2 separate regions of the Homo sapiens genome follow, and region 2 is linked to region 1. The links come from fine-mapping of genetic effects on gene expression. A gene starts in region 1. The other region holds a variant in brackets. All regions are shown on one strand. Distances are from middle to middle. Region 1 holds the start of PLSCR1 (phospholipid scramblase 1). Region 2 holds the start of PLSCR2 (phospholipid scramblase 2).

Evidence for each region.
Region 2: its variant is fine-mapped to the expression of PLSCR1 in tibial artery (GTEx, PIP 0.99).

The regions. Positions count from the first base shown.
Region 1 is chr3:146,541,091-146,551,238 of GRCh38, forward strand. It overlaps PLSCR1 (phospholipid scramblase 1), which reads right to left and starts at 3,517. Exons shown (of 9, transcript NM_021105.3): 1 at 3,377-3,517. RefSeq lists an enhancer at 3,367-3,846.
Region 2 is chr3:146,466,942-146,477,263 of GRCh38, forward strand. PLSCR2 (phospholipid scramblase 2) reads right to left here and starts at 2,620. Exons shown (of 8, transcript NM_001395437.1): 1 at 2,554-2,620. RefSeq lists an enhancer at 2,609-2,678. The variant G/C (reference allele first, on the strand shown) is at 4,696.

The DNA of each region.
Region 1 (10,148 bases):
GATGAAACTGAGGTGACTGTGGCTGATTATAAATGCAAAGTACCTTGTAACAAGGAGCCATTCCATAAAAATCCTCTTGTGTATTTTATGCTGAACAAACAAAACAAATATGCTTAAAACCAGTTTAGGATAGCCTTTTATAGCATTTTATATTAAACCTTGAATAAAAATGTAGATGATACATCAACTAGGACCAAGTGAGATGGTAGTGATCAAGTGTTCTACAAAACTAAAAAGTAAACCAAAGAGACAAAGGAAACAAATACTGAATCAGTTATTCTCATTTGATTGCTTTACTACTCTGAAAAGCCTTTCCTGACAACCCAGAGCTCCCTCACAAATTTGCTTCCTTTCCTCCTAATAAATGGTGAAACTAAACCCATAGAAATAAAAGTGATTTTAATAAATGTGATACAGCTTGCTAACTAGCTGAATTAAGATGATTAATAATTCATATTCTTTGCACCGATGTCTCTAATTCACTGAAAAAAGGAAGACTGACATCCTTCAGTGAAATTTGTTAAAAGACTCTTTTAAGGTTATCTTTCTTATGTAAGACAGAAAAGGCTTGAATTTCAATTTACTCTTGTGCCACTTAGCTTTAACTAGGCCAGGTGCTATGGTTAGAATGTGTGAGCTAAGTTCATGTGTTGGAAACTTAATTTCCAATGCAACAGTGTTGGGAGGTGGAGCCTAATAAAATATGATTAGTTTATAAGCACTCTACCTTCATGAATAGATTAATGTCGTTATCTTGGGAGTGGGTTTGTTATTGCCAGAGTAGGCTTGTAAGGAAATCAAGTTCCACTCTCTCTTGCTGTCTTGCCCTTCCACTTTCCACCATGGGATGATGCAGTAAGAAGACCCTCACAAGATGCTGGTGCCTCCATACAGTCATGCACCACAACAACAGATCACATATATGATGGTGGTCCCATAAGATTATTTTTACTGTACCCTTTCTATGTTTAGATACATAAATACTTGACATTGTATTATACTTGCATACAGTATTCATTACAGTAGTACATGCTATACAGGTTTCTAGCCTAGGAGCAACACCTTATTCCACACAGTCTAGGTCTAGTAGGCTATCTGCCACCTCACTGGTCATTCCTTTTCTTGAATGAGCCAAGTTCCCTCCAGCCCAGGACTTCTACCTGTGAGGTTCCCTCTGTCTATAATGCCCTCCACCAACCCACTCACCCACACGTCTATAGACTAGTTGATTTGAGACTTCCCTCAGCTCTCAATCTGACTCTCCTCAACACCCCCAACCCCACCACCCCAGCCTAAATAGTAGGCTGGCTATAGTATCCAGGATTGTGTAAGTAAATTCTATGACGTTCTCACAACCACAAAATTGCCTCATGATGCATTTCTCAGAATGTATTCCTGTATTTAAGCAACACATGATTATGTTGGACTTCCTAGCCTCCAGAACTGTAAGAAATAAATTTCTGTCCTTTATAAATTACCAAGTCTCAGGTATTCTTTTACAGCAGCAGACAACATATGGAGACATCATTTTTTTCTAATCACTTCTTAAAAGAACATATGGAAAATTGAAGAGTGCAACTATTAAGTTCTGATTAAAAAGTGTTTTGGTTTTTTAATTTAGCACTATTCAGGGCAGTGCAATACAGTGTGTATATACACAGATACACATATATACACATAGAAATTCTTCCTATATAAATATTCACTAAATATAAAGCTTGTGTGGTTTTAAAGGAATTAATTGAAGGCATAGAGCATGCAAGGCACTATACCAGGCACTAGAGCACAATACCTAGACACTAGGGGAGACAGACAATTAAGAATTAAATATATTATTAAAAATACTCTAAGTGCTATAAATAAAATTAATGTTGCTATAAGAAAGGGTTATGGGGCACTAACTTAGATGGTGGTAGGGGGTTTAAGAAAAGTCAGACTAGGAGATGAAGGAAGTCTCAAATCAACTAGTCTATGGAGGTATGGTGGGTGGGGTGTTGGAGGGCATCATAGATAGAGGGAACTCCATAGGTAGAATTCCTGAGCTGGAGGAACGTCCCTCATTCAAGTAAAGGAAGACGAGTGAGGTTACAGAGCAAAAGAGGGAGACATTCTTAGAGATGAAGATGGAGAAGTACATAAGGGTCTGCTCACACACATCTGATGTCTCTCCACCTGTATGTACTCTAAGCTCCTTTACAGATCTAAAGGCAGTTTGATCTATAAACCAGCTATTTTACATGCCACTTTTCTATCCAATTGCATAAATCCACTCTTTCCCTTTATATGTCTTTTTCATTTCCCCGCATTTTCTCATTGTTCAAAGCCCTACTATTGTTGTAAACAGGGTGGCATTAAGACAAAGGTTTGCTCTTAGAAAAAGTTCAAGAAGGGAGCCCCCAAACTGTCTGACACGTTTAAGTGTCACTTGTAGTAACCATGTATCTCAATGTGATAAGCCAGAAAAAACAACGACTGCCTGTTCCTGGAACTGGGAAGTGGCCATGCCAAGACTTCCAGGAATAACAGTGCATGAATGAAACCACCTGGGAACCAGAGAATCAGCTTGGAGAAGCAGGAACTTTGTCAAATATTTAAAATAATAAGAGCTAACTTTCACTGAGTACTTTCTGTAGCGCCAGGCACTGCTCTAAGAATTTTACATTAATACTCTGTAGCTCATTTAATAGTTACACAATTTCAGAGATGAGGCAATGGAAAGAACATATATAAGAAGAAAGTGGCTGACAGTCCACAGACGTGAAGCAGTAGAGGCCGAATTTAAAGTCGGGGAGCCTGACTGGAGCTAATGGTCTTAGGAACCGTGCTAGATACCGCCACTATCTTTCCTAAGCTGGTATTGTAGAGGGCCTAGCATAGATGTGGGCTCCGGCGGACTTCATTGAATACTTACTGATAAATGACAGCTTGCAGGCTGTATTAACCATTCCTTCTAATAGCCCCACTACGCTGGCACATGCTCCTGAGCCCAGACTCTACCCAGGATTCAGGGCCGCTCTCTACCTGTAAAGCAGTGTAGCTAAGGGGAAGCTGAGCCCCGCAAGGCGTTTTCAGGCAGGGCACCCCTTGTCATTCGAATGGTTCTGGGGTGAGCCCGGGTGCCGCTGGGCCGCCTGGGGCCCCTTGCCGTGTACCTGCTCCACTTCCAGGGTCCCTTTCAGAGGCCTCTTGCATTTCTGGCCCCAACCTTCACCCCACATCCTCCACCCCCAGAGCAGCAAACACAACCTGCGGGCCCTCGCGCCGGTTCCCCACAAGTTGCCCTCCACACCTGACCCCGGCCCTGGCCCCAGCGCAGGCTCCGCGCAGTTCCCGCGCCCAAGTCCCCAGGAGGCGGCAGAGAAAGCCGCCCGCGCACCTCTGGCTGCCGCTGTTTCCGCTCCCGAGCGAGACAAGGTCCAGAGAGCCGGGGCCAGGCGATGGCTTCCTCTTCTGCGCCTCTAGACTGCCGGGCACAGCTGCTGCGCAACCTTCTCAGAAGTCAGCCGGAAAAGGGTCTGGGAGTAACCTTTGCGCCAACACCCGCGGCTCCTGGTTTCGTTTCCTGAATCTTACGTACACAACACGGTTTCCTTTTCCCGGTTCCCGCGCTGGCGCTCGGGGACCCACGAGACTACTGGAGGGTGAAGGAGCTGGAGGAGGGACTGCGCCCACCCCCTGGTGTGAGGCCCCTCCCCTACCCCCGACTTGCTTTCTTGCTCATTGGAGAGACTCCAGAGACGTTTGTCCGGTGGTTAAGGAGAGGAACTGGGACTCCGACACTAACTGGAACTGGAAAGTCATCAGCTGGGGAGTGGCCTCCCCCGGGAACTTTCTTTACTCTGGCTTTGACCTCCATCCCTCGGAAGCCCGTGGCTTTTCAAGGCGAGGGAGTAGAGGCAGCTTAAGACTACAAATGAGGAGGGGCCAAAATTGTTTTTCTTTATGGTGCCTTTTCTTTCTTGCTGTCTTGCTCTTTCTTTCCTTCTATTAAATTATGTGATATTACTTTTTAATTTTTAAGCAGTTATTTGAATGTTTTCGAGCTCACTTTATTTTTTTATAAATATTGTTCCTTTTTAAACTAAAATAGTTTTTATTCTGTGTATTTAAGTTATTTGTATGACATATCCATCAACTCCTATAATTACACATTTCCCCCCTTGGGGCAAGAGCAGCTATAATCTACTTATTTAGCATAAATCCTGAATACCACTATCATTAACTATAGCCCTCATGTTGTACATTAGGTCTTCCCATTTGTTCATCCTACGTGTTTGTAACTTTGTATACTTTTACCTAAATTTCCCCATTTCTCCTGACCCCACTCCAACCTGGATGACCCTGGATAAACCAGTGGTCCCCAACCTTTTTGGCACCAGGGACCAGTTTCACGGAAGAGGATTTTTCCATGGACCAGGGCCGGGTGGCAGACGGTTTCAGGATGATTCAAGCACATTACGTGTATTGCGCACTTTACTTCTATTATTATTACATTGTAATATATAATAAAATAATTATACAACTCACCATAATGTGGAATCAGTGGGAGCCCTGACCTTGTTTTCCTGCAATTAGAAGGTCCCATCTGGGAACGGTGGGAGACAGTGACACCAGAAGTGTGTTGCTTATGTCCAGTCTACTCCGTAATCTTGTTTTGGTTGCTGTCACTGCAGAAAATCCTGCTTCACAAAGATAGCATGTTGGAAATGGAAGCAGACTCTTCAGTGCTTTTGTGGCAATCTCAGGATATCCCACCTTGAGTTTAATCCAGAACATGGGATTTGAAGCTGTCTCAAACATACTTTTAAGGCCACCATCATTTGTGATCTCAAGCAATTGATCCTCTTCTAGTACGGACAAAATCGATTCACCTGACTTACTCACAAATGGGTCATGGATACATTCATTCCCAGTTCAGGGTTCTTTTGTGGTTGGGTAGTAATGCTCGAACTCTTTTGAAAGCTAAGATAGGTGATCATGCATCAGCTGAGAGAAAGAAGCTGCTGGCTCAGTCTTCTTCAAAATCTCTGCTAATGTTTGAAACATGTCAAAAATCTCAATGTTCATTCGTTGCCCCCATAATTCCAGTTTGGCTTTCAATGCAACCAATTTATCTGCTTCCTTGAACACAGTTGTCCTTCTCTCCTGAAGCGACAAGTTGAGTTCATAGATCGAGTTGAATACATCACACAAGTAAGCAAGTTTTGCAACCCTTTCTGTGTCACTGAAATGTGCCGCCAATGGTGACTGATTTTCTAAAATAAATCTCTGGAGCAGCTCTCATAATTCAAAAATTTCAGCCAGTGATCTACTTTTAGAAAGCCATCTCATTTCTGTGTATAAGAGAAGACATGCATGCCCAGTGTCCATCTCCTCACAGAGCTGCACAAACAGATGTGAGTTAAGAAAATGTACTTTAATGTGGTTGATTATTTTTGTCACATCCTGCAAAACATTGTTAAGTTCAGGTAACATTTTTCAGCTAGCCAGCATTTTTCTGTGGATGACACAGTGCATAGACTCACATTCTGGTCTCTTTGACCAGAGTAGTGAAACCAGAAAGCCATCCAGTCATGGCAGCCACTCCTTCCATGCATATACCTACACAAAATAACCAATTCAGTTTTCTTGATATGTAATCATTCAAAGACAAATAGTTCTTCAGCTGTGGTTTTGATTGGCAACAAAAATTCACATAATATATCCTTGTGCACATCTTCCTGAAAAATATATCACACACAAAAAAGCATTGTTGCTTTGTTGTCAATATCAGTAGACTCATCAACCTGGATTGCATACCAATTGCTAGAGAGGATTAATGGTGACTCATTAATCCTCTCTAACAATTGTACCTCGATATTCTCTGCTATTTCATCAATTCATCTAGTTATGGTGCTAGCCAGAAGAGGAATATGTGCTATTTTTTGAACTGCAGCCTCTCCTAAAAGTTCCCAACAAATGTCCTTAGCAGCAGGCAGGATCAATTCTTCACCAATAGTAAAGGGCTTCTTAGCTTTAGCAATGCAGTTAGCCACTATGAATGATGCTCTCAGTGCAGACACATTTGATGACATGGTGGCCTTCAATAATTGCTTCTATGTGTTCTTTGTGTTCATGGTTTCATGGTTTCTGTTTTTTTTTTAAACAAAACAAAACAAAAAACTCCAAAGGCTTGTCTTTTAATGCAGAGTGCTTGGTCTCCATGTGGCAAAGTAGTTTTGCAGGTTTCATGGCTTCATTGGGCAGTTGGTCACCACATATTATACAAAGCAGGATTGGAGAATGTGAACCACCTGTTGCAATGAACCTGTAATTTAAGTAGGACTCTTGGCATTTTCCTTTAAGTGCAGCTTTCTTTTTGTTAGCAGTCTTAGAGTCTTCTGTTATCTCACCTTTGGGTTTTTCCCCATTTTCAAAGAAGCTGTCCAGTGATGTTTGTTTTTCACTCACTTTGATGTTTTTAACAAAAACTTTTTTTTAACAAAAACCCTTGTTTTTCACAAGGGTTAGCTTGTGGGCTTAGCAAAACTGTGACTAAGACAAGTGCACAGTGTGGAAAAGAGGTGCAGATGGAAGTGGTAAAATAATGGGTGGGCCATGCACAGACTAAAATAAGTGTTGGATTCTGACTTAAAGCCTGCCACCAGATGCAACTGTACAATTGAAGTACATCAATTTTCCACTATAAAGCCTGCCTCCAGACACAGCTTAATTGTCACTTGTCATTTGCCCCTCACTGATAGGGTTTTGATATGAGTCTGCAATCAATGTATTTATTATGGTCTCTGTGCAGTCAAAACTCTCTGCTAATGTTAATCTGTATTTGCCGCTGCTGCCCGATGCTAGCATCACTGCCTGAGCTCCACCTCAGATAATCAGGCATTAGATTCTCCTAAGAAATATGCACCTAGATCCCTCACATGTGCAGGTCCGTGGCCTGGGGCTTGGGGACCCCTGCTATAAACCACTATTGTATATATTTGACCTTTTCTTAATTTCATATAAGTGAGATTGTGCAAAATTTTTCTTTCTGTGTCTGGCTTATTTCATTTAGCATAATGCCTTCCAGGTCCATCCATGTGATAGCACCTGGCAGAATTTCCTTCTTTTATAAGGCTGAGTAATATTCTATTTTGTGTGTATCTGTGTGTGTGTATACACACAACATGGAATATATGTATCTTTATTTATACAGTTGTCTATTGATGGACACCTAGATTATTTCTATTATCTTGGCTATTCTGAATAATGCTGCAATGAACATGGGAGTGCGGCTATCTTCAGGAGACGGTGATTTCATTTGCTTTTGGTATATACCCAGAAGAGGGATTTCTGGGTCATATGGTAGTTCTACTTTTAATTTCTGTAGGAACCTCCGTACTGTTTTCCATAACGGCTGCACCAGCCTACATTCCCACCTACAGTGTACAAGGATTCTCTTTTCTCTACACCCTTGCCGACACTTGTTATCTCTTGTCTTTTTGATAATACCAATCCTAACAGGTATGACGTAGTATCTCATAGTGATTTTGATTTGCATTTTTCTGATGAATAGTGATGCTGGGCACATTTTCATATACCTGTTGGCTATTTTTATGTCATTTTTGAAGAAGTGTCTATTCAAGTCCATTTCCCATTTTTAAATTGGGTTATATGTTTTCTTGCTATTGAGTTGTATAAGTTCTTTATAAATCTTGGAAACTCAACCCTTTTCTGAGAACATGATTTGCAGATATATATTTTTCCAATCTATAGGTTGCCATTTCATTTCGTTGATTGTTTCCTTTGCCATGCAGAAGTTTTTGGTTTGATGTAGAAATAATATTGTTAAAATGTTCATACTACCCAAAGTAATATATAGATTCAATGCAAATTTGTATGAAACCACAAAAGACCTCAAATAGCCAAAGCAATTCTGAGAAAAAAATTGAAGCTGGAGAAATAACACTTCCTAATTAAAAATTATATTACAAATTTATATAAAACAGAATGGCACTGACATAAAAACAGATATGTAGACCAATGGAACAAAATAGCTCAGAAATAAATCCAAACATACACGGTCAACTAATTTTTCACAAGGGCCCCAAGAGAACACAATGAGGAAAGGATGGTCTCTTGAATAAATGGTGCTGGGAAGACTGGATTTTCACATACAAAAGAATGAAATTGAACTGTTGTCTTACACCACACAAACAAATCAAAAACAAAATGGATAAAAGACCTACATGTAAGACCTCAAACCGTTAAACTCCTGGAAGAAAATATAAGAGAAAAGCTCCTTGACATTTACCTTGCCAAAGATTTCTTGACTATCACACCAAAAGCTCAGGCTACAAGAACAAAAATAAATAAATGGGACTATACCAAATGATATTTTAAATATGTTTTGAAATCAAACCAACCAGATTTGTTTAGAATGTTTATTTTTCCAGCCCTGCAGCTGGCATAGAGACATGTAATAAATAAATATTTATTGAACTGAAGGAATAATTATTTTCCTTTAAAATTTGTTATTTACAAAAGTAATGTGATTTTTTTCCAAACAATAAAGCTGCAAATGCAGAAAAGAAGTGAAATCTTGTCCTTTTCACTCCCTAGTTTTATTCCCATTATCTTGCTAACCAAGGTTAACACATGTTTGAAGATTTACTAAGAGAAGTGAGAGGAGAGAACAGGAAGGTGGAAAAAGAAATTGAGAAAACATGGTGGAAAAAGGAAGAGGGAAAACTGAACCACCTAGGTTTGATCTCTTTCTCTTCAACTTACCATCCCTGTGACCTCATGAAAGTTACCTGACAGCCTCCGTGCCTCTTTTTGAAATCTATAAATGAGGGTAGTAATAGTATCTACTTCATAACATTTTTTGAAACTTCAGAAAGTTAAAATACATAAAAGGTTTAGGGTGGTGCCTGCCACAGGGTAAGCATTTGCTTTGGGTTTACCTTCCTGACTAATGGACTTCTGCTGCAAAAGGGCAGGAGACAGTAGAAATCCAGTAGCTTTCATTTTCTATATTTTTCAACCTCTCCTTCCCTGATGAATAGTGTATTTTGAATCCCAAAACTTTTCTGCCAATTTTACACAGAAGAAATCTATCCTTTGCTTAGGGTGGTACCACATTCTCTTTGTGGAGGTAGTAAGTTAGGCTGGGTGAATTGGCTTGTGAATAGACCTTCAAGCATCCTCAATTTACTTGCTAATTTATAACTTTGTCTTTTTATTTGACACCACTAAGTCCTCAGCCTCTTTGGATTTCTGTGGAGTTAAGGTGGATCTCCTGAATCTTATTTTCCTTTTTACACACTTTAGGTTGTGACTTTCTGAGTCTTGCAAAATCAGTTTCACTTTTGCCTCTCCCTTCCATTTTCTCAAATTTGTTGAAATCTCACTTGCTACAGTAAATTCTCATCTTTTCATAGTCTGTGTGGTGTTTACAGCTTTTGGGTTCTTTATTTTGTTTTAATTGTCTTCATTTTCATTTTATTATAGTCTCTGATGAAAGGTACCATCTTTAATTAGAAAACATCCAGATACCATATAAATTATTGTTTGCCTAAATAAAACTCAGTATTTGCTTTGACAGAGTAAAATAGTGCTTCCCATATTTTAACATGCATAAGTATCACTTGGAAATCTAATTAGAACTAAATTTGCAGAGTCCCGCCTTTAGTCTTTCTGATTCAGTAAGTCTGGGATGTGCTTTGAGAATTTGCTTTTCTAACAATTTTCCGTAGGGTGCTGATGATTCTTTTCAATAGACCACATTTTAAGAAGCATTTGCTGAAAGAACTCTATTTTTTTCAGGTATTGTGTAACAGTGCATCATAAGAGGAGGGTCATAGCACAAAGGATGAATTTTGAGTAATAGACAATCATAGTGATTCTATTCTCCTTTGACTGACTTGTATAATTGAGGGCATATGCAAATGTAAGCAGTAAACCCTTTCCTAGAAGCCCTCAAGAAGAGGGCTTTTGTGTATGTGTGTGTGTGTGTGTATATATATATATATATATGCACGCATACACACATAAATACACATGCAAGTGTATAATATGCCTCTTTCTCTCTTATATAAGGCAGTGACATATGGAATTATGACAGTTATCTTCAGATCACAGAATATGGGAGAACAAGTCTTAAGGAT
Region 2 (10,322 bases), 74 kb before region 1:
TTTAGTCTCATGATCAATTAGTTTTTAACTAGGATAGGCAAAACTTTTTTAAAAGCAGTTTTTAACAACAAATTTTGGGAAATGAAAAGCACAGTTGTTACTACTGATTAACTAAAGTGCTTTGGCTTTTAAATTTAGCACTGTTCAAGGCAGTGCTATAGAGTGTGTGTACAGGTACACATATGTGTACATACATATATCCACATATATGTACACATGTATAAATGTATAAGTACATAAATACTCACTTAACATAAAGCTTATTTTGTTTTTCAAGGAATATTGATCAACTAGACCCAACTGAAATTGTAGTAGTAAAGTGTTCTACAAAACTAACAAGTAAACCAAGGAGACAAAAGAAACAAAAATGAGTCTTAAAGTCAGTTATTCTCATTTGATTGCTTTATCACTGCTCAAAAACTTTTCCCAACAACCCAGACCTCCCTTGAATATTAATCTAGTTGAATAATATATTTACATGATATGTAAATTTTATGCACTTAAAAGATTTGGTTACCATCTAATTACTACCATTTGATTAATATTCAAGGAATCTTAACCAAAGGCATAGAGCATGAAAGGCACTGTACAGGCACTAAAAAATGGAGGAGTCAGGCAGTTAATAAAATTAAATATATTCCAGCACATTATATTAATTAAATTTATTATAAATATATTATGGATAACACATATATAACAATACAAATGTATTTGTACATATACAAATACATTAAGCACTATGAATACAAATAATGGTACAATAAAAAGGATATGGAGTCATTGATTTAGTTGGAGTAGTGGTGGCATTGTCAGGAAAGTCAGAGCGGAGAGTTGAAAAAAGTCTAGAATCAGCCAGGCCATAGGGATGTATGAGGGGCGTGGTAGGGCATTATAGACAGAGGGAAGCTCACTAGTAGAAGTCCTAAGCTGCAGGAAACTGGGCTTATTCGGGAAATGAAAATTTATGAAATTACAGAGCCAAAGATGGACAGACCCTTAGAGATGAGGATGGAAAGGTGCACAAGGGCCAGTTCACAAATGTTTAAAGTCGCTCTACCTGCACTTTAAGACCTCAAAGGCCAGAGCTTGGTTTGTCTTATCCAAGACAAGCCACTTAATCTGTGTTTGTTAATTCAACAATGAGTGTACAGTATTATTTTGCTCTTTTCAGTCAGTAAGAATAGTTCCCTTACAGATCTGAAGGCTGCTTCATGTACAGTGAGACCCAGGTATTTTACACTTGTCTATCCAACTGCAGCAATCCACTCATTTTCCTTTGTATGTGTTTTTCATTTCCTTGTGCTTGTTCATTGCTCAAAACCCTTCTATTGTAAACATCAGGGTGGCAATAAGAGAAAGGTTTGCTCTTAGGAAAAGTTCAAGAAAGAAAGGAGCCCCCAAACCGCCTGACACTTCTAAGTGTCACTGGTACTAACCATGTATCTCAGTGTCATAAGCGGGAAGAAACAACGACTGCCTGTTCCTGCAACTGGCAAGTGGCCATGCCAAGACTTCCAGAAATAACAGTGAATGAATGAAACCACATGGGAACCAGAGAGTCAGCTTGGAGAGGCAGGGACTTTGTCAAATATTTAAAATAATAAACGCTAACTTTCACTGAGTACTTTCTGTAGTGCCAGGCACTGCTCTAAGAACTTTACATTAACACACATTAATTACTGCTCAAAAACCTTTCCTAACAACCCAGACCTCCCTCACAAATAGGAGTTTTCCTTTCTTCTTTATAAATGAGAAAACTAAGCCCATAAAGATAAAATGTTTACTTAATGCTGTACAGCTCAGTAACTAGCTGAATTGAAATTATTCATGATTCATGTCCGTTGCATTTATGTTCCTATTTCGTTGAAAAACAAACAAAAAATCTCACATTCTCCCAATGTGCCAAATTTCAGTGTAATACTCTGTAGCTCATTTAATACTTACACAATTTCAGAAATGAGGCAATGGAAAGAACATATATGAAGAAAGTGGCTGACAGTCCACAGATGTGAAGCAGTAGAGGCCGAATTTAAAGTCGGGGAGCCTGACTGGAGCTAATGGTCTTAGGAACCGCGCTACATACCGCCACTATCTTTCCTAAGCTGGTATTGTAGAGGGCCTAGCATAGACGTGGGCTCCTGGCGGACTTCATTGAATACTTACTGATAAATGACAGCTTGCAGGCTGTATTAACCGTCCCTTCTAATAGCCCCACTATGCTGGCACATGCTCCTGAGCCCAGACTCTGCCCAGGATTCAGGGCCGCTCTCTACCTGTAAAGCAGTGTAGCTAAGGGGAAGCTGAGCCCCGCAAGGCGTTTTCAGGCAGGACACCCCTTGTCATTCGAACGGTTCTGGTGTGAGCCAGGGTACAGCTGGGCCGCCTGGGGCCCCTTGCCGAGTTTCCGTTCCACTTCAGGTGTCGCTTCCCGCGGCCCATTGGGCCCTTGCCCCGCCCTCTGACGCAAACACAATTATGGGGCGGAGCATCGTCCCCACTAGCCAGGCACACCCCAGTCCCATAGGGAGGCGACTGAGAAAGCCGCCCCCTTACCCGTGGCTGCAGCTGCTCCCGCACAGCCCTGAGCGAGCCGAGGTCCTAGCGTGGCTTCCTCCCGTCTGCCCCGTGACTGCCAGGCACACCTGTTGCACAGCCCTCCCGGAAGTCGGCGGAAAAGGGGCCTGGACCAGCCTCAGAGTCTACACCTGCAGCAGCCCCTAGTTTAGGTTTCTGGACCCCAAGGGTACAACAAGGCTTCCCTCCCCTGGTCCCTGCGCGGGCTCAGAGGATCCGGCTTTGCTGCTGGAGCGCGGCCGAGCTGGGGGCGCGACTGCACCCACCCCCCCACGCCGTGTGCGACGCGCAGCTGCCGCCCAGCCCGTCCCGTCTCCCTCTCCCCATCCCCGTCCCCTTTTTTGCTCTTTGGAGAGACTCCGGAAACGTTTCTCCGGTGGTTAAGGGCACAGATGAACTGGGACGTCGACACCAGCTGGAACTGGAAAATCATCAGGCGGGGAGTGGCCTACCCCGGGAACTTCCTTAACTCTGCTCTTGACCTCCATCCCTTAGAAGCCTGTAGCTTTTCAAGGTGAGGGAGCTTAGACTACAAAAGAGGAGCGGTCGAGATTATTTTATCTCTAGCCCTTGCCCTTCTCCCTTTTCTTTCCAACAAAAGGCATTTTTAAGTTAAGAGTGAAAATGATGAGGCGTGTAGAATGTTTAATTTTTCAGGACGCGCCTTTGATTTTTCAGGGTGTGCCTGCAACTGGCACACCCTCATGCAATAAATAAATACATATTGCACTGACGTTTCTACTGATTTTTTAAAAATTTATTTACACGCCTGAAACCCTAGCATTTTGGGAGGCCGAGGCAGGCGGATCACCTGAGACCAGGAGTTCAAGACCAGCCTGGACAACATGGTGAAACCCCGTCTCTACTAAAAATACAAAAATGAGCCAGGTGTGGTGGTGTGCCCCTGTAATCCCATCTACTGGGGAGGCTGAGGCAGGAGAAAAATCGCTTGAACCCGGAAGGCAGAGGTTGCAGTGAGTCGAGATCCAGCCACTACACTCCAGCCTGGGAGAGAGAGCAAGACTCGTCTCAAACAAACAAACAAAAACACATGATCTTCCAAACAATAACACCATATATGGAGAAAAATGAAACCTCACCCTCTCCATTCCCGGTGCTGTTCTCCCGATTACCCTGCTAACCAAGGTTGACACAAACATTTGAAGACACACTAAGAGAGGTGGGGGGAGGGAAGAAAAAAGGGAATGGAAGGGAGGAAGGTGGAGAAAGAAATTGAGAAAATAAGATAGAAAAAGGAAGAAGGAAAATCGAGCTACCTGAGTTTGAATTCTTTCTTTTTTACTTCCTGTGCCTGTGACTTGTGAAAATTACTTGACAATCTCTTTGCCTGTTTTCTAATCGGTAAAATGAGAGTAGTAATGGTATCTACCACAGAGGATTTTTATGATGATTAAGGAAGTTAAAATATATAAAGAATTTAGAATGATGTTTGCCATAGAGTAAGCGCTCAGTAAATGTTATATACATACAAATAAGTATATACACAGCTACACAGTGTTTTTGTTTTTTTGTTTTTTTTTTACATAAAGAGGATTATTTTATACAGCTCTTCTCTGATGTGTTTTTCACCTAACAGTGCATCTTGGAAATCTCTATCCCTCTAATACAGAACTGTGTCATTGATCTAATAATCTAGGTACTGTTTCCAAGTTTTATCAATTATAAATTGTGCTGTAGTCATCATCTTTGCACATATCTTTCTGTATACAATAAAAAAAACATTTTATTCTTTTACCAATAAGTCATGGGATTTCTAATTTTTCCACACCTCTTCGATTCTAGAATACCAATTCTAAATGTTTCCTACTGTGAATGGCAAGCATTATCTTATTTTTTGTTTGTTGATTCTGATTGTTAATGAGATTGAGGACTTTTTCATATGATTACTAATTATTTTACAGTTTTATTCTGTGATTTGTCTGAAATATAATGCTCATTTTGTTATTGTTGTTGGATTGGGATTTTTTTCCCTCTTGCTGATTTGTTAGTGGTCTTTATATATTGTGGGTATGTTAAATAAGATACAATTCTTTTTTTTTTTTTTTTCTGAGACAGAGTTTCACTCTGTTGCCCCGACTGGAGTGCAGTGGCACGATCTCA[G/C]CTCACTGCACACTCCACCCTCCGGGTTAAAGAAATTCTCTTGCCTCAGCCTCCCAAGTAGCTGGGATTACAGGCATATGCCACTATGCCCTGCTAATTTTTGTATTTTTAGTAGAGATGGGGTTTCCCCATGTTGGCCAGGCTGGTCTCAAACTCCTCACCTCAGATCCACCCACCTTGGCCTCCCAAAGTGCTGGGATTGCAGGCGTGAGCCACCATGCCCGGCCAAGATACAATTCTTTTGCCTACTGTGTCTCTGGCTTGAAACTTATTTAAGGTTGCTTTCACCACACAGAAATTTTTATTTTCAGTGATTTTTACTTTTATTTTTTCATTTTGACTTCTGGTCTTTGAATCTTATTTTAAACTGCCTCTTGTACCCAGGACATTTTTATGATTTCTTCCTTTACGTCTATTCCTTATTTCCAAGCAGTTGGGAATGTCTAGTTGTCTTTTTATTATTTGTAATTTTATTGTAGTGCAAGCACATGCTGTGTATGGTTACAGTCATTTGAAATTTTTAAGACTTACATTATGACCTTCTGGTTCACAGCCAATTTTTATAAATATTTTGTACGAGAAATAGGTGTATTCTGCAGTTGTGTACAAGTCATGTATTTTCATTCTAATTGGCTGTGTCAGTTAGTTTTGCTGTTGCTTTAGCTAATATTTGGTTTGATTAATCTATCAATTATTCAAAGAGGTATTAAAATTGAGAAAGTATCTATTTACATTTAGACTTCTTTTCATGTAGTTCATTAGGGCAACTAAAAGAAAATACCATAGTCTGGGTAGCTTATAAACAACAGAAAGTTATTTCTCATAGTCCTGGAGGCTGACAAATCCAACACCAAGGTGCCAGGAGATTCAGTGTCTGCAGAAGGGCCTACATTCTAACACATACATGGCATCTTCTCACCGGGTCCTCACAAAGTGGAAGGGACGAGGGATCTCTCTAAGATTGTATTTTTCTTTCTTTCATTTTTTTTTAAAAGGTATTAATCCCATTTATGAGAGTTCCATTCTCGTGACCTAATCTCACAAAGGCCCCACCTCCTAATATGTCACATTGGTGATTAGGCTTCAACATATAAATTTTGAGTGGACACAAACATTCAGACAATAGCAACATCTGTCTTAGCTCCTGTTGCAACAGCAAAATGGCATAGTCTGGGTGACTTAAACAGCAGACATTTATTTCTCACAGTTCTAGAATTTGAGAAGTCCAAGGACAGGGAACCAGTAAAATCATCATCTGTTGAAGCCTCTCTGGCTTGCAGACAGTCCCTTTCTTGCTGTGGCCTCACATGGCAGAGAGAGAAAGAGCTCTGGTTCTTCTTCCTCTCCTTATAAGGACACTGATCCCATCATAGAATTTTTAACCTTTCCTTAATTTGGCATCACCAATCCCTCCTTTTCTCTGGGGTACTGTAGAAATAAATTGGATCTCCTTATTATATCTGTCTAGACACCCTTTGTGACTTCCTGTGTCTTGCAAAATGATTTGCCACATCTGCTTTTTTTCATATTCTCAAATTTGTTGAAATCTTATGCCCTGCTATATAATCTCATCTTTTTTTCATCCTTGGTTTATTACAGCTTTGGGTTTTGTTTGTTTTGACTATCTTCACTTTTATTGTATTATAGTCCTGAAGAAAAGTACTATCTTTTTTTTTTTTTTTTTTTAAGACAGAGTCTTGCTCTGTCGCCCAGGCTGGAGTGCAATGGCACGATCTCAGCTCACTGCAGCAACCTCCACCTCCCAGGATCAAGCAATTCTCCTACCTCAGCCTCCCATAGTTGGGATAACAGGCACCTGCTACCACGCCTAACTAATTTTTGTATTTTTAGTAGAGATGGGGTTTCGCCATGTTGGTCAGGCTGGTCTTGAACCCCTGACATCAGGTGATCCACCCACCTCGACCTCCCAAAATGCTGCGATTACAGGCATGAGCCACTGCGCCTGGCTGAAAAGTACTATCTTAAATTAGAAAACATCTAGGTATAACATAAACACACTGTTGGTTAACTAATCAAAACTCAGTATCTGCTCTTACATGGTAAAATAGTGGTTTTCAAATTTTAGTATCCCTCAGATTCACCTGGAAATCTTGTTAAAACTCAATATGTGTTTCCCACATCCAGAGTTTCTAATTCAATATATTTGGAACGGGGCTTGAGAATTTGCTTTTCTAATAAATTCCCATGTGACGCTCATGATGGTTTTCCAGGGACTTCACTTTAAGAACCATTGCTAAGTGTTCTATTTTGCTCAGTTCTTGAAGAACAATATGTTCTTGAAAGGAATGTCCTAACCCAAAGAACAAATATTGGTTAATTGTCAGTCATAATGAATCCAGCCTCCTTTCTCTGTTATTGGTATGCATTTGGTTATATTACTTAGATTTGGCTAAAGAAGAGTCATATTGAGAACTTCTAGGAAAGAGTTTCCTGCTTACTTTTGTATATGTATATTAATATGTATCTGTGATGTGCATAAGTACATGTACACACACAGCCCATATATACACTTATGTGAAGACTGACTTGTGGTTATAGAATCTATGAGGGTATTTATTTTTGTTCTTTCCACAATTTCTTACTCAAAACATGCTATCTTTTTTTATTGTTGTCCTCTTCTGCATGGAGGGTTTTATTTCTTTTCAATAGCTCCAAGATTTCCACGGCACCAAGGGGGAAAAGGTATAACACAGCTTTATGGGAAACAGTAGCAGAAGACGATTTCACTTTGCATCATGGTTCTAACATGTGGGTTAAAATTCTGGGTTGGAAATTCTTTTTTTTAAGAATGTTGAATATTGGCTCCCACTCTCTTCTGGCTTGTAGAGTTTCTGCTGAGAGGTCTGTTTTTATCTGATGGGCTTCCCGTTGCAGGAGACCATGCTGTTCTCTCTGGTTGCCCTTAGTAGTTTTTCCTTCGTTTCAGCCTGGGAGAATCTGATGATTATATGTCTTGGGGTTGATCTTCTCGTGGAGTATCTTAATGGTGTTCTCTGTATTTCCTTAATTTTCATGTTGGCTTGTTTTGCTAAGTTGGGGAAATTCTCCTGGATGATGATATCATGAAGTGTGTTTTCCAACTTCTTTTCATTCTCCCTGTCTCCTCCTCGTACTCCAATCAATCTTAGATTCAGTCTTTTTATAAAGTCCCATATTTCTTGGAGGCTTTGTTCATTCCTTTTCACTCATTTTTTCTCTATTCTCGTCTGCATGTCTTATTTCAGTAAGGTGCATTTCAAACTCTGATATCCTTTCTTCTGCTTGGTAGATTTGACTATTGATACTTGTGTATGCTTCATGAAGTTCTTGTGCTGTGTTTTTCAGCTCCATCAGGTGGTTTTTGTTCCTCCCTAAACTGGTTATTCTAGTTAGCAATTCCTCTAATCTTTTATCAAGGTTCTTAGCTTCTTTGCATTGGGTTAGAACATGCTCCTTTAGCTCAGTGTAGTTTTCTATTACTCATCTTCTGAAGCCTACTCCTGTCAATTCATCCATCTGATCCTTTGTCCAGTTCTGTGCCCTTGACGGAGAGATGTTGCAATCATTTGGGGGGAGAAGAGGCACTCTGGCCTTTTGGGTTTTCAGCATTTTTTCACTGATTCTTTCTCATCTTCATGAGTTTGCCTAGTTTCAGTCTTTGAGGCTGCTGACCCTTGCATGGGGTTTTTGTAGGGGCCATTTTGTGGGGGCCATTTTTGCGGGGGTCATTTTTGTTGTTGTCAGGTTCCTTTTCTGTAGGGCTGCTGCAGTTTTCTGGGGGTTCACTTCAGGCCCTATTCATCTTACATTCCTACTTCTTTACATGCTTCATAACTTGTTGAAAACCATATATTTAGAATAATATAATATGACAACTCTGGAAACTGTATATGCCTCCTCCCCAGGCTTTGTTGCTGGTGGTGTTTTTCCTATTGTGCATTTGGTTACTTTCCTCAACTAATTATATTAATCTATTTTCTTCATTATGTGTGACCACTGACATCTATTCAGTTAGCATAGTAGTCATTCAATAAATGGATATAGTTTTCCTTAAATATGCTGCATAAGTGTATCTCCCAGCCTTTTCCAAAAGGTCCTTTTTGTGTTTGGGGACACTATTTCAAAGATCCAATAGATGATTTACGGTATTGGCTTAGCTTTCTCTCACTGCTTGCACAGAAACTTAAGGTCAGCCAGACGAGAGAGATTATTTCTTTTTCAGGTCTTTTCTGGGTATGTGCACAGTTCTGTACGTGCACATTTCCTTCTAAATTTTCAGGAGTATGTCAGAACTTTTAAAAGCCCCTATTAATATCTCATTCCCCAGATTTTCTTTTTAAGAGATTTTGGTCAGCTTCTTCTATGCCCCAACTATTATTAAGGCCTCACTCAATTGTCATGTTAAACAATTACCACTAATTATTTCCCAAAACTGTTATATAGCGGGGGCGCCGGGGGGTGCACTGGGCCAAGAAGGCTGACAAGAAGCAGCTGCAATCAAAGGCTCCCACCAAGAAGAACGAAGACAGTGTGTGAATCCTGCACTGGGAACCGAGGTACCCTCAGGTTCTATCAGGACTGACTAGGCAGTTGGTGTGACTCACAGAGAGTAAGGAAATGCAGTGTGGTGCATCGCCTCACCTGAGAGCCACATGGGGCAGGGGGAGCTCCCATTCCCCAGCCAAGGGAGGCGCTGAGTGTTCATGCTACCCAGCCTGGGGATCTGTGCTTTTTCCATGGATCTGTGCAACCCATGGATCATGAGATCCCACTTGTGAGCCCATGCTACCAGGGCCTTGGGTCCCAACCGCAGAGCTGCATAGATTCTCAACAGCTACTCAGTTGGCATCTGCCTAGGACTACTGAGCTCCCAGGGGGAGGGGAAGCCTTCATCACTGCAGCTGCCTGCTGCCTAAGACAACTGAGCTCCCCAGGAAAAGGACAGCAGCCCTCACTGCAGCTGCTAGCTGCCTAAGATGCTGAACTACTGGGAGGAAAGGGCAGTAGCCATCACTACAGCTCCAGCCCACTGTATTTCCCCGGCTGGTGCCTGGGAGACTCAAAAGGCACTCCCCATAGTACAGCACACCAGCTGTGGCAGATCACGACCAGACTGCCTCTTTAGGGCAGACCCTGATGCATCCCTCCTTACTGGGTGGGGCCTCCCTGCAAAAACTTCAGCCACTCCAGCAAGGGGCTTAGGGCCAAAATTCTGGTCTCCCTGGGCCTGAGCCCCTAGGGGGAAGGATAGTCATGGTCTCCATGGACCAGCTGACTTAGTCTTTCCCCCTGGTAGCTCTGAGGAATCCAGGCAGCCCAGATGAGTGGGATTCCCCTAAGAACAGCACACCTGTTGGACCAAGGGACAGCCAGGGTACTTTGTTAAGTGGGTCTCGGATCTCATGCCTCCCAGCTGGGTGAGAACCCCCGCAAACAGAGGTCACCAGACACCTTATACCAGAGTGTTGCTGGAGTTCTGTTCCAAGATGGCCAAATAGGAACAGCTCTGGTCTGCAGCTCTCAGCGTGATCGATGCAGAAGATGGGGGATTTCTGCATTTTCAACTGAGGGACCTGGTTCATCTCATTGGGACTGGTTGGACAATGGGTGCAGCCCACGGAGGGTGA